Linked DNA regions of Homo sapiens: regions 1, 2 and 4 are each linked to region 3. The links come from fine-mapping of genetic effects on gene expression. A gene starts in region 3. Each other region holds a variant in brackets. All regions are shown on one strand. Distances are between the middles of the regions.

What was found. PIP is the estimated chance that this variant, and not a neighbour inherited with it, causes the effect. A credible set is the group of variants that fine-mapping cannot tell apart.
Region 1: its variant is the best candidate, but not a certain one, in a credible set for the expression of SH2B3 in whole blood (TOPMed, PIP 0.59).
Region 2: its variant is the best candidate, but not a certain one, in a credible set for the expression of SH2B3 in pancreas (GTEx, PIP 0.55).
Region 4: its variant is the best candidate, but not a certain one, in a credible set for the expression of SH2B3 in whole blood (TOPMed, PIP 0.76).

Annotation. Positions count from the first base shown.
Region 1 is chr12:111,725,310-111,727,991 of GRCh38, forward strand. ACAD10 (acyl-CoA dehydrogenase family member 10) reads left to right here. Exons shown (of 21, transcript NM_025247.6): 9 at 2,653-2,682. Among named protein-coding and RNA genes, the nearest start is that of ALDH2, 40 kb to the right of the region's middle. The variant A/G (reference allele first, on the strand shown) is at 1,155.
Region 2 is chr12:111,439,396-111,442,077 of GRCh38, forward strand. The region is part of intron 2 of SH2B3 (SH2B adaptor protein 3); the gene reads left to right. It overlaps LOC124903019 (a long non-coding RNA gene), which reads right to left. Exons shown (of 2, transcript XR_007063462.1): 1 at 1-2,682. Among named protein-coding and RNA genes, the nearest start is that of SH2B3, 35 kb to the left of the region's middle. RefSeq lists an enhancer at 749-1,293. The variant T/C (reference allele first, on the strand shown) is at 1,327.
Region 3 is chr12:111,404,696-111,407,377 of GRCh38, forward strand. It overlaps SH2B3 (SH2B adaptor protein 3), which reads left to right and starts at 1,228. Exons shown (of 8, transcript NM_005475.3): 1 at 1,228-1,582. RefSeq lists silencers at 707-866, 987-1,566.
Region 4 is chr12:111,471,660-111,474,341 of GRCh38, forward strand. All of the region lies in intron 18 of ATXN2 (ataxin 2), which reads right to left. Among named protein-coding and RNA genes, the nearest start is that of SH2B3, 67 kb to the left of the region's middle. The variant C/G (reference allele first, on the strand shown) is at 1,127.

The sequences.
Region 1 (2,682 bases), 320 kb after region 3:
CCAGCCAGGGCAACATGGCAAAACCCCATCTCTACAAAAACAAACAAAAAATTAGCCAGGCGTGGAGGTGCACACCTGTAGTCCTACCTACTTACCCGGAAGATTGTGGTGGGAGGATCACCTGAGCCTGGGAGGTGGAGGCTGCAGTGAGCTGTGATCACATCACTGCACTCCAGGCTGGATGATAGAGTGAGACCCTGTCTTTTTTTTTTTCCTTTCTTTTCTTCTTCTTCTTTTTTTTTTGAGATGGAGTCTCACTCTGTTGCCCAGGCTGGAGCGAAATGGCGCGGTCTGGGCACACTGCAACCTCTGCCTCCTGGATTCAAGCAGTTCTCCTGCCTTAGCCTCCCAAGTAGCTGGGATTATAGGCATGTGCCACCACACCCGGCTAATTTTTGTATTTTTAATGGAGACGGGGTTTCGCCTTGTTGGCCAGGCTGGTCTCAAACTCTTGACCTCAAGTGATCCATCCGCCTCGGCCTCCCAAAGTGCTGGATTACAGGTATGAGCCACTGCACCCGGCCGACATTGTTTTTCATAACCACAACACCAGTATACCTAACTAACAATTATTTAATAATAATACTGAATATCTAACCCATGTTCAAATTTCCCCAATCCAAAACATCTTTTGTAATAATTTTTCAACTTGAAACATTTGTAATGGTAGGATTTTCAAAACAATTTTTTAGAGTAGTAAACTGGAGGCTGAGGCAGATGGATCACTTGAAGCCAGGAGTTTGAGACCAGCCTGGCCAACGTGGTGAAACCCCGTCTCTACTGAAAATACAGAAATTAGCTGGGCATGGTGGCGCTCACCTGGAGTCCCAGCTACTTTGGAGGCTGAAGCAGGAGAATCATTTGAACCTGAGAGGCAGAGTTTGCAGTAGGCCAAGATCGCACCACTGCACTCCAGCCTAGGTGATAGAGTGAGACTCCATCTCAAAAATAAATAAATAAATAAATAGAGTAGTAAACTGTTTGCTAGTAATGACCAAAAGATGGATTAGTGACATGTCATTGGGTCACCTTAGTACTGCTGGGTGGTATATACACCACTCATACCACCAAAAAATGATAAAAATAACCTCAATAACAAGAAGGGATACTTATTGAACCCTTATTGGAACCAGAGACCATGTCAGGCACTCTGT[A/G]TGTTTGTTCCCTAATTCATTTCTTTTTTTAAGTAACAAATACCCTGGAAGCTCCCTTAATTCTTGCAATTACCCTTTGAAGTATGTATGTTTTACAGATTAAAAAACAACAACATGGCTGGGTGCAGTGGCTCACGCCTGTAATCCCAGCACTTTGGGAGGCTGAGGCGGATGGATTACGAGGTCAGGAGATTGAGACCATCCTGGCTAACAGAGTGAAACACCGTCTCTACTAAAAATACAAAAAATTAGCTGGTTGTGGTGGCACATACCTGTAGTTTCAGCTATTCGGGATGCTGAGGCAGGAGAATCACTTGAACCCGGGAGGCGGAGGTTGCAGTGAGCCAAGATCGTACCACTGCACTTCAGCCTAGGCAACAGAGCGAGACTCCATCTCAACAACAAAGCTCAGAGAGGTTTAATAAGTCTCTCAGGGTCACTCTTCAACTAAGAGCAGAGTTGGGATTTAAACCTGGTTCCAACCAGGTGCAGTGGCTCACACACGTAATCCCAACACTTTGGGAGGCTGAGGCAGTCAGATTACCTGAGGTCAGGAGTTTGAGACCAGCCTGGCCAATATGGTGAAACCCCATCTCTACTAAAAATACAAAAATTAGTCAGGCGTGGTGGCATGCACCTGGAGTCCCAACTATTTGGGAGGCTGAGGCAGGATAATCGCTTGAACCCAGGAGAAGGAGGTTGCAGTAAGCCAAGATCGCGCCACTGCACTCCAGCCTGGGCGACAGAGCAAGACTCCATCTCAAAAAAATAAATAAATAGGCCGGGAGCAGTGGCTCACGCCTATAATCCCACCACTTTGGGAGGCCAAGGCGGGTGGATCACGAGGTCAGGAGATCAAGACCATCCTGGCTAACACGGTGAAATCCTGTCTCTACTCAAAATACAAAAAATTAGCCGGGCGTGGTGGCGGGTGCCTGTAGTCCCAGCTACTCAGGAGGCTGAGGCAGGAGAATGGTATGAACCTGGGAGGCGGAGCTTGCAGTGAGCCGAGATCGCGCCACTGCACTCCAGCCTGGGTGACAGAGCGAGACTCCGTCTCAAAAAATTAAAAAATAAATAAATAAATAAACAAAAAATAAAAACCTGGTTCGGTGTGACTCCAGAGGTCCTTCTCTGAGCCTTGCTGCTTGCTACATTATTACACTTTGAATCCATTCCTGTGGCTTACACAAATGAACCAGGGAGAAGAGAAAAGCATGCTGTCCAAGAAGCATAGATGGGTGTGCATGTGTGTGTGTGCACGTGTGTATGTATATGTGTGTGTGCATGTATGTGGATCGATCCATTGCAAGAGAGGATACTTCTAATGCACTGTGCTTATGTGAAAGGAAAAAGGAAGTATCCAGTGCTCTGGGTCTGAACTCTTCACCAGCTCTCAACCTGTATACCCAGGGAAAGTGACAAAGAATAGGGTCATGACTAACAGCCTGCCACATTATGACTCTGATCCCTGAAACCCCTTCTGTGTTCCTCCCAGTGTCATTGGCACCCCCTTCTATGTGATGGA
Region 2 (2,682 bases), 35 kb after region 3:
TGCCTCGGCCTCCCAACGTGCTGGGATTACAGGTGTGAGCCACCGCACCTGGCCTAATTTTTGTATTTTTAATAGAGACAGGGTTTCACCATATTGGCCAGGCTGGTCTTGAACTCCTGACCTTGTGATCTGCCCGCCTCGGCCTCCCAAAGTGCTGGGATTACAGGCGTGAGCCACTGCGCCCAGCCGGGAGTTTCTTTTGAGATGAGATTTTGCTCTGTTGTCGAGGCTGGAGTGCAGTGGCACCATCATAGTTCACGGCAGCCTCAACCTCCCTGCTTCAGCCTCCTGTAGCTGCAGGGGAGTTTTGAGCAGAGGAGGGTAGGCTGGAGCAGCATCGTGGGGGTGGAAATAGCTAATTCTGGACAGACTTGGGCGTAGTCTGATGGGACAGATGGCAGTTTTTGATGCTGCCCAACTCCCAGAGGGCCCAGGTGTCACACTGTTTTCCAGCCTGGCTCCTCTCTCCTCACTGGGGGCTCCTTGTGAATACCCCTTTCCCCCAGCAGTTGTCTGGGACTGGAATCCTGGCTGCTCAGCTCCCAGCATCCACCACTTTCTGCCTTTGAGGGATGGGCCGTGCCTCCCCTCCTGCACATCTTCTGTGGCTCCCTGGCATCTGGGGGGAAGATGGGGGACAGAGGCCTCCCTGCCCAGCTCTCTTGACCTCCCTCAGACCCCAGCCAGCTCAGACGCCGGTGGGTTTCAGATCCACCCAGGTCCCATGTTAAAATGCAGATTCCAAACTCCCTTCCAGATGTCCTGTGCCAGAAGGTCATAGAAGCACCCTGTGCTGTGTTCCCTCCCCCTTGGAGGTCTCTTGAGCCTTCTCATCTGTGAAGTAGGTGAAGGCACAGGAGGGCCACGTGAGGCTCACACACACTGCTCCTTGCACGGAGCTGGCCCGGGGCAGGGTGGTGAGGCTTCTCCTTCATAAATCTCACTGTCCATGATGCCCAGGATTGTCCTTTGCTCTGGAACCATGACGTCCTACTTGGTTTCGTCGTGTCCTTGATGGTGTGACGCCCATTTCTGTGACTTCCTCTTGGAAAACTTTTTGAAAAATGTTGCCGGCCTGTGAATTCCACAATCTGGAAACTGCTGGTGGGCCACCCAGGCTCCAATGCCTGGCACACAGCAGATGCTCACTAAAGGGTGGTGTGGGGTCTGTGAGCGTCATTTCCAGCCACAGTCAAGCCCCTGTTGTCTTCTAGCCTGGGGCTGTGCCTTCTGCCCTCTGGGTGTTGGCTCTTGCTATTCCCTTAACCTCCAGTGCCTTTTTCTCCACCATCCCCACTTCGGAGAATATTCAGCAAACGCTACTGC[T/C]CCTTTCTCTGTGCTGGGCCAAGACCGAAAGATGGAAAAGGAAGAGGGAGGCCTTCTTGAGCCTCTGGTGCATGGGAGCAGGGGAGTGACAACTCAGGAGGGCTGCCCAGGGAGGGGCCTTCTTGCTCCCAAGTCTCTCTTAAGGCTGAGCTCCTAAGGCCCTGTGCTCCTCCCTGCCTTACCATTCCCCTGAGATCCTTCCATACCCTCTGGGAGCTCTGTTGCACACACTATGCTCATATTCTCAGGGAAGGGTAGTGGCATTATTATCCCACCTTAGAAAATGCAGACTCTTGCTTGAGCCCAGGAGGTCAAGGCTGCAGTGAGCTAGTTTATACTCTATCCTGGGCAACAGAGAGGGACCCTGCCTCAAAAACAAAATACACACATACACACACGTGGAGACTCATTTTGGGAGGCCGAGGCAGAAGGATCACTTGAGCCAGGAGTTTGAGACCAGCCTGGACAACATAGCGAGATCCTATCTCTATCTCTACAAAAAAATAATCAGCCACATGTGGTGGCATGTGTCTGTAATCCCAGCTACCTGGGAGGCCAAGGCAGGAGGCTCACTTGAGCCCCCAGGAGTTTGAGGCTGCAGTGAGCCAGCCTGGGCCACAGAGCAAGACCCTATCTCTTAAAAAAAAAAAAAAAAAATTGGAAACTGAGGCTAGGAGAGGTGAGTCACTTACCTATGGAAGAGAAGGCAGAGTTGGGACTCAAGCACAGGACTAAGTGTCCCAAACCTCAGGGTGGTGGAGTTGCTGCATGGTTCTGTAGCCCTGAGGGATTTCTGGGCAGGATACTGGATGGCTTTTAGCAACTAGGCTCAGTCTTGATGCTGCCCACCCCAGAGAATGGCTGAGACGCACCACGTTTAAGGAGAGTTTGCGAGGTGAGGACCTTCCTCACCTCAATCCCATATTACCTTGGGATGGTAATAAGGTCTATGAAATAGGTCAAAGTCTGGGTAATGCATGGGTTTAATAGGTTTCTCTGCTGCAGGACTTCTCAGAGTCTTTAATGGAGCTAAGCAGCAGCATTCTCTTTCCACAAATGACTGTCCTCTCTCGGAGAATCCTTTGCATTGGCTGCCAGGAAGCTGAGACAAATCTGTGGCAAGAGGGACTCTTGTCTGTGTTGTAGCAGCTGTCTCCCAGCTCTTTCTGGGTGTCTCTAACCTGACTAAAATCATTTTTGGAAGAAGGCAAGGAATTTTTTTTTTTTTAAGACAGGGTCTCACTCTGTCGACCAGTCTAGAGTACAGTGGTGTGATCTCAGCTCACTGCAACCTCTGTCTCCCAGGTTCAAGTGATTCTCCTGCCTCAGCTTCCCAAGTAGGTTAACTTTTTGATA
Region 3 (2,682 bases):
CCTGTAGTTCTAAGGTCAGGACTGGGGCCGATTTGTTTAACACAGAGAGCTTCCTGGAGCCAAGCCTCGAGCTAACTGCTTTAATGCATTAACTCACTTAATTCTCACTGCCAGGAGAGTGGGTACACATTATTTCCATTTCATAGGCAAGGAAGTGGAGAGGTACGGAGAAGTCAAGTCATTTGCCCGGGTAGGAAGAGGGGGAGGCAGTGGAATGGAGACACTTGCTGCCTGGGAAGACTCGAGGTGGCCCCTCCAAGCTGGGGGCGTGGGCGACTTGTTTCCTGTTGGGGGAGGGGGAGAAGAGTACATTCCTCCCTCCCCGCCCTCCCACATGTTGGGGGAGAGGCTGGCTGAGAGCATGTCCCACTCCGGACTAGGGGGAACCCCACTGTCCGTCTCAGCTCCCCATGAGGCCGTGGAGAAAATGTAAGTAGCCCGGGGGCGGGCAGGGGGGTGGGCGCAGAGGCCACGGAAGCCAGCGGTCGGAGAGGGCTTCCTGGAGAAAGATGCACCCCTCCTAGAATTGGGGGACAGGACGGGCGGCCGGAGCGAGGCTGGGCTATACGGGCACCGGCTGTAGCAAAGGCAAAGCTGAGGGCTGGGGCCAGAACCCAAATCGGGGGCCTGGGGCCGTGGCGGGTCGGGTCAGCATGATCGCAGATAGTCAGGGTCGGGCAGGGCTGGGCTCCCTCCCTGGGGCGATGATGAAAGCCGTGGTCGCTATTGCACCGCCCAGCCCTGCGGGCACTGATAAGGCCCTGCAGGAGGGAGTCAGCAAGGGCGCGCCCCCTGGAGGCCAGGCCCCTCGACCCTGCCCGCCCTAGGCCCCGCCCCTTCATCTGGCCCCGCCTCCAGGCGCTGAGGCACCTGGTGACCTGCCGGCGTTGAGTGGGTGGGGCTAAAGTCGCCCCGCCCCTCCGATCCTCACTTCTATCTTCAGACTGTGGGACGCGAAATCGGGTGGGCACGTGGTGGGCGTGGCTTCGCAAGGCCTCGCCTTTTTCCGGACCCGCGCCAGGAGAGCCCTCCGACCCTGGCAGCCGCGGACTAGCGGGATTGGTAGGCGGGGCCAGTCCGGGCTCCGCCCTCATGGCCCGCCCCTCCAGCCGAATCTCCGACTCGCGCGCGGCCTGAGGCGTGGCTCCTGGTGGCCCCGCCCCTGCCCCGCCCCTGTCGCGGCCGGCCTCCCCCGCCGGGCTCCGCTCGCACGGCCGGTTCCTCTTTACATAACGGCGCGGGGCGGCATGGGCCCGGGCCACCGCCTCCGCCCGGCTGCCCGCCCGGACTGTCGCGGCCCGCGGTGGCGACGGCGGCCGCTGCAAAGTTTCCCCGGCGGCGGCGGCCCGGGGGCGCATCCTCCCGCAACTGTCAAGCGCTGGCGGCGGAAATGATGAGGCGCTGGCCATTTTCCGAGCCCGGGTTTCCTGCCTGAGCCCCGCTCGAGCGAGCCGCGAGCGAGGAGCCGGCGGGCGGGAGAGGACGCGCCCAGGGCGGGGGCCCGCCCGCCCCCTCGGGATTTCGAGGGCCCGGGGGCGCGCGACGCCATGGGCCGGCCGGGCCCAGAGCTCCTGTCTCTCAGGTGAGCCCGCGTTTGCCCGCGCTCCCCTCCTCCGGGGCCGGGAGGGCTTTTGTGGGGAAAGAGGAGGCCCCGTGTCCAGTTCTGCCCGGGCTCTGCGCGTCACCCCCAGCCCAAAATACTGCCCTGCAGCCAACTCGGATGGAGGCGTTCCGGGGTGACGGCTCCCAGCGCCTACGACCCCCCACTCAGCCACTACCCCCACCCACACACGTGTTAGGGAGAGCGTTGGGGTAACTGAGGCCGTGGGATGGGGGAGAGGGCATCGCTGACGCCCCCAGCCCACCCTACGGTAGCCTCGCCGGTTGGGGGCGGCCCTCCCCTCAACTTGTGCCTGGGGAGGAGCGGTCAGGGGTCACCCATTGCTACCCTGAAAGTGAAAGTAGTCAAACTGAGGCTGTGAGCACAGATGAGCCCTTGGGTGTGGGGGCAGCGGGGGAGGATGCGCCGGCCCCTCCCCACTCCCCATTCCGGGCCATGTGGCTAAGAGGGTAGCGCCCTGATTCAGGAAGCCCCTCTCCCCAGTTCCTGCACTGCCGAGGTCGACCGGGCCAGGCCCCCGCATGCTGCTGAATTGGGCGGTTCACCAGGGCTAGGCGTCCCAGAGACAGGTTTCTGGTATTGATCCTCTCACACCTCTTGCCTGGGGTTCCCTGGGAATCCCCCGACCAAAAAACGTCTGGAGTGGGTGTTGGTCTTCTAGATCCGCACGGTAGGGATGGTATTTCAGAGGTCTCTGATGCCTGGTGCAGAAATCCCCTTCCCTCCCTTCCCTCCCTCCGGCCAGGGGAGCTTTGTTTTGAGGGAGGGGGACTGCATTTGAGGAACTGGAGAGGAGGGTCTGCCTGCCTGTCCCGCTTCTTTTTTTCTTTAGTTTCCTCATTCTCCTGTTTCTCTTCCCCATTCCCAGCCACAATGATGTAGGTGAGGAGGTCACTGCCTGCAGCTGGGGGCCTCCAGGGAGGGGCACGGCCAGGCTGGGCTGAGTGGGAGGAAGTGAAATCTGGTGGGGGGTTCAGAGCAGAGGCCCCGGCAAGGCAATGTCGGCAAGGCCAGCTTTGGTGGCAGGAGGGACCGAGATCTGACCCGCAGCCCCTCGCCGG
Region 4 (2,682 bases), 67 kb after region 3:
AGAGCTAGTTACATATTATTTTATCTATGTAGGAAAGCAAACCTGAACATTTTTTTATATTTTATCTTGGATGCACGTATTTAAAAACCACCTCCTTCTGGTAAACAAAAAAGCCACTGAAAACTACTTATCACTTTTATCAAATGAAAGTTTGCCCGATTATGCTAACTGAGCTTAAACTATTCACTATTATTACTTTGTTACTTATTACCTTCCTGTATATTTAAAAAATAATTAAAAAGCTAGTCAAGTATACTATGGTGCTATTATTTAGATATCATGTGTTTGTCTCCACTAATTCTCATGTTAAAACATGATCCCCAGGCCAGGCGCAGTGGCTCACGCTTATAATCCCTACACTTTAGGAGGCCAGGGCGAGCGGACTGCTTGAGCTCATGAGTTTGGGACCACCCTGGGCAACATGGGGAGACACTGCCTCCACAAAAAATACAAAAATATTAGCCAGCTGCGGTGCTGTGCATCTATGGTCCCAGCTACTCAGGAGGCTGAGGTGGGAGGAACTTTTCAGCCAGGGAGGCAGATGCCGCGGTAAGCCGTAACTGCACCACTGCACTCCAGCCTCGGCGAAGAAGTGAGACCCTGTCTCAAAAAAGGGGAGGGTAGGGGACAGGAGGGGAAGAAAAGAAACCAAGCCCTTGACTCTGCCTGTTATTTGAAAAATGCTAAAAATATTTTTATCCAATACCTCAAAGGATTGGAATTTAGTAAAGGAGCAGGGTAAAAACTAACATATAAACAGCAATAGCCTTCATATATGGTACTTCATAAGTAATTACTTAGAAGATGCAATGGAAGAGAAGTCCCTGGGTTACACTAACATTAAAAAAGAACCTACCTAAGGCATACACTGAAAAAAATGTACAAAACCTTAAAGATAAACTTTATTTTTATTTATTTATTTTCTTTGAGACAGAGTGTCGCTCGGTTGCCCAAGCTGGAGTGCAGTGGTGCAATCTTGACTCACTGCACTCTCTGCCTCCTGGGTTCAAGCGATTCTCCTACCTCAGCCTCCAGAGTAGCTGGGACTACAGGTGCACACCACACCCAGCTAATACTTTTTTTAAAATATTTTTAGTAGAGACGGGGTTTCACCATGTTGGCCAGG[C/G]TGGTCTCGAACTCCAGACCTCAGGTGATCTGCCCACCTCTGCCTCCCAAAGAGGTGGGATTACAGGCGTCAGCCACTGCATCCAGCCAAGGATAAACTTTAATATGCTATTGAAGGTATACTTTGTTCTTGAACAGGAAGACTCAACATCATGAAGACATCAATCATTTCTTCTCAAGTTAATTTATAAGTTTATTGTGATTCTGGCCTGCCATGGTGGCTCATGCCTGTAGTCCCACCACTTTGTGAGGCTGACACAGGCAGACTGCTTGAGCTCAGGAGTTCGACACCAGCCTGGGCAACATGGTGAAACCCTGTCTCTGCAAAATATACAAAAATTAAGCCAGGCACGGTGGTGCTTGCCTGTAGTCCCAGCTACTTGGGAGGCTGAGGTGGGGGGATTGCCTTAGCTCGGGAAGTTGAGGCTGCAGTATGCCCAGATCATCCCACTGCACTCCAGCCTAGGTAACAGAGCCAGACCTTGTCTCCAAAAAATTAAAAAAAAAAAAAAAATTCCAGAAGTTTATACTGATAGTAAGAACCAACGACAAAAAAACCACCTCACTGGTTACCTTTGGAGGATAACAGAAAACCAACTCATTATTTTGAAGACTGCCTTAAAAAGGGAAATGATTAACATTTTAAATTACTTTTCCTAAGAAAGCTATACCTCAGGGTAACCAAACAGCTGGATATGGGAAAGTTTTTCTTTATAGAAATATTCCAGGCAATAATTGAAGAAGGGATGAAAGGAAAAGAATGTCACCATTTTACAACCCCTAAGGAAATAACTGATCTTGGGCTAGACAATTATCATCAATGGCTGCTAAAAAACACACCAAAAAAATTAAGGCGCTAAAGGGACATATTATCTCCTGGATAGATAAAACATCTAGGAACTCACTGACTACTCCTATCAGGAAAAAGACTGATTACATGACTCCTCACTGAAAGTACACACATCTGTGAAACATTGGGGAAAAAAAAAAAAAACCCAATCTGATCAAGCCTTCATTATTTACTATCAGTTTACAAAGATTACAGGGGACAGAAGTCTACTTTAAATATCAACACAGGGATACAGTCAGCAAAATTCAGATCGTGGGAAAAAAATACAAGACAAGCTGGATATGAACAAGACAAAAACTAAGGGAAAAACTGTAATTAAAACTGTGAGGGCTGAGTGCAGTGGCTCATGCCTGTAATCCTGGCACCTTGGGAGTCAAGGCAGGCAGACTGCTTGAGCTCAGGAATTCGAAACCCTGTCTCTACAAAAAATACAAAAATTAGCCAGGTATGGTGGCGCGCACCTTTAGTCCCAGCTACTTGGGAGGTTGAGGTGGGAGGACCACCTAAGCCCAATTGGTAGAGACTGCACTGAGCTGAAATCATGCCACTGCACTCCAGCTTGGGTGACAGAGTTAGACACTGTCTCAAAAAACAAACAAACAAAAAAACCTATGACTTGGCTGGGTGTGATGGCTCATCCAGCACCTCCTAAAGTGCTGGCCTGTAATCCTAGCACTTTAGGAGGCTGAGGTAGAAAGATAACTTAA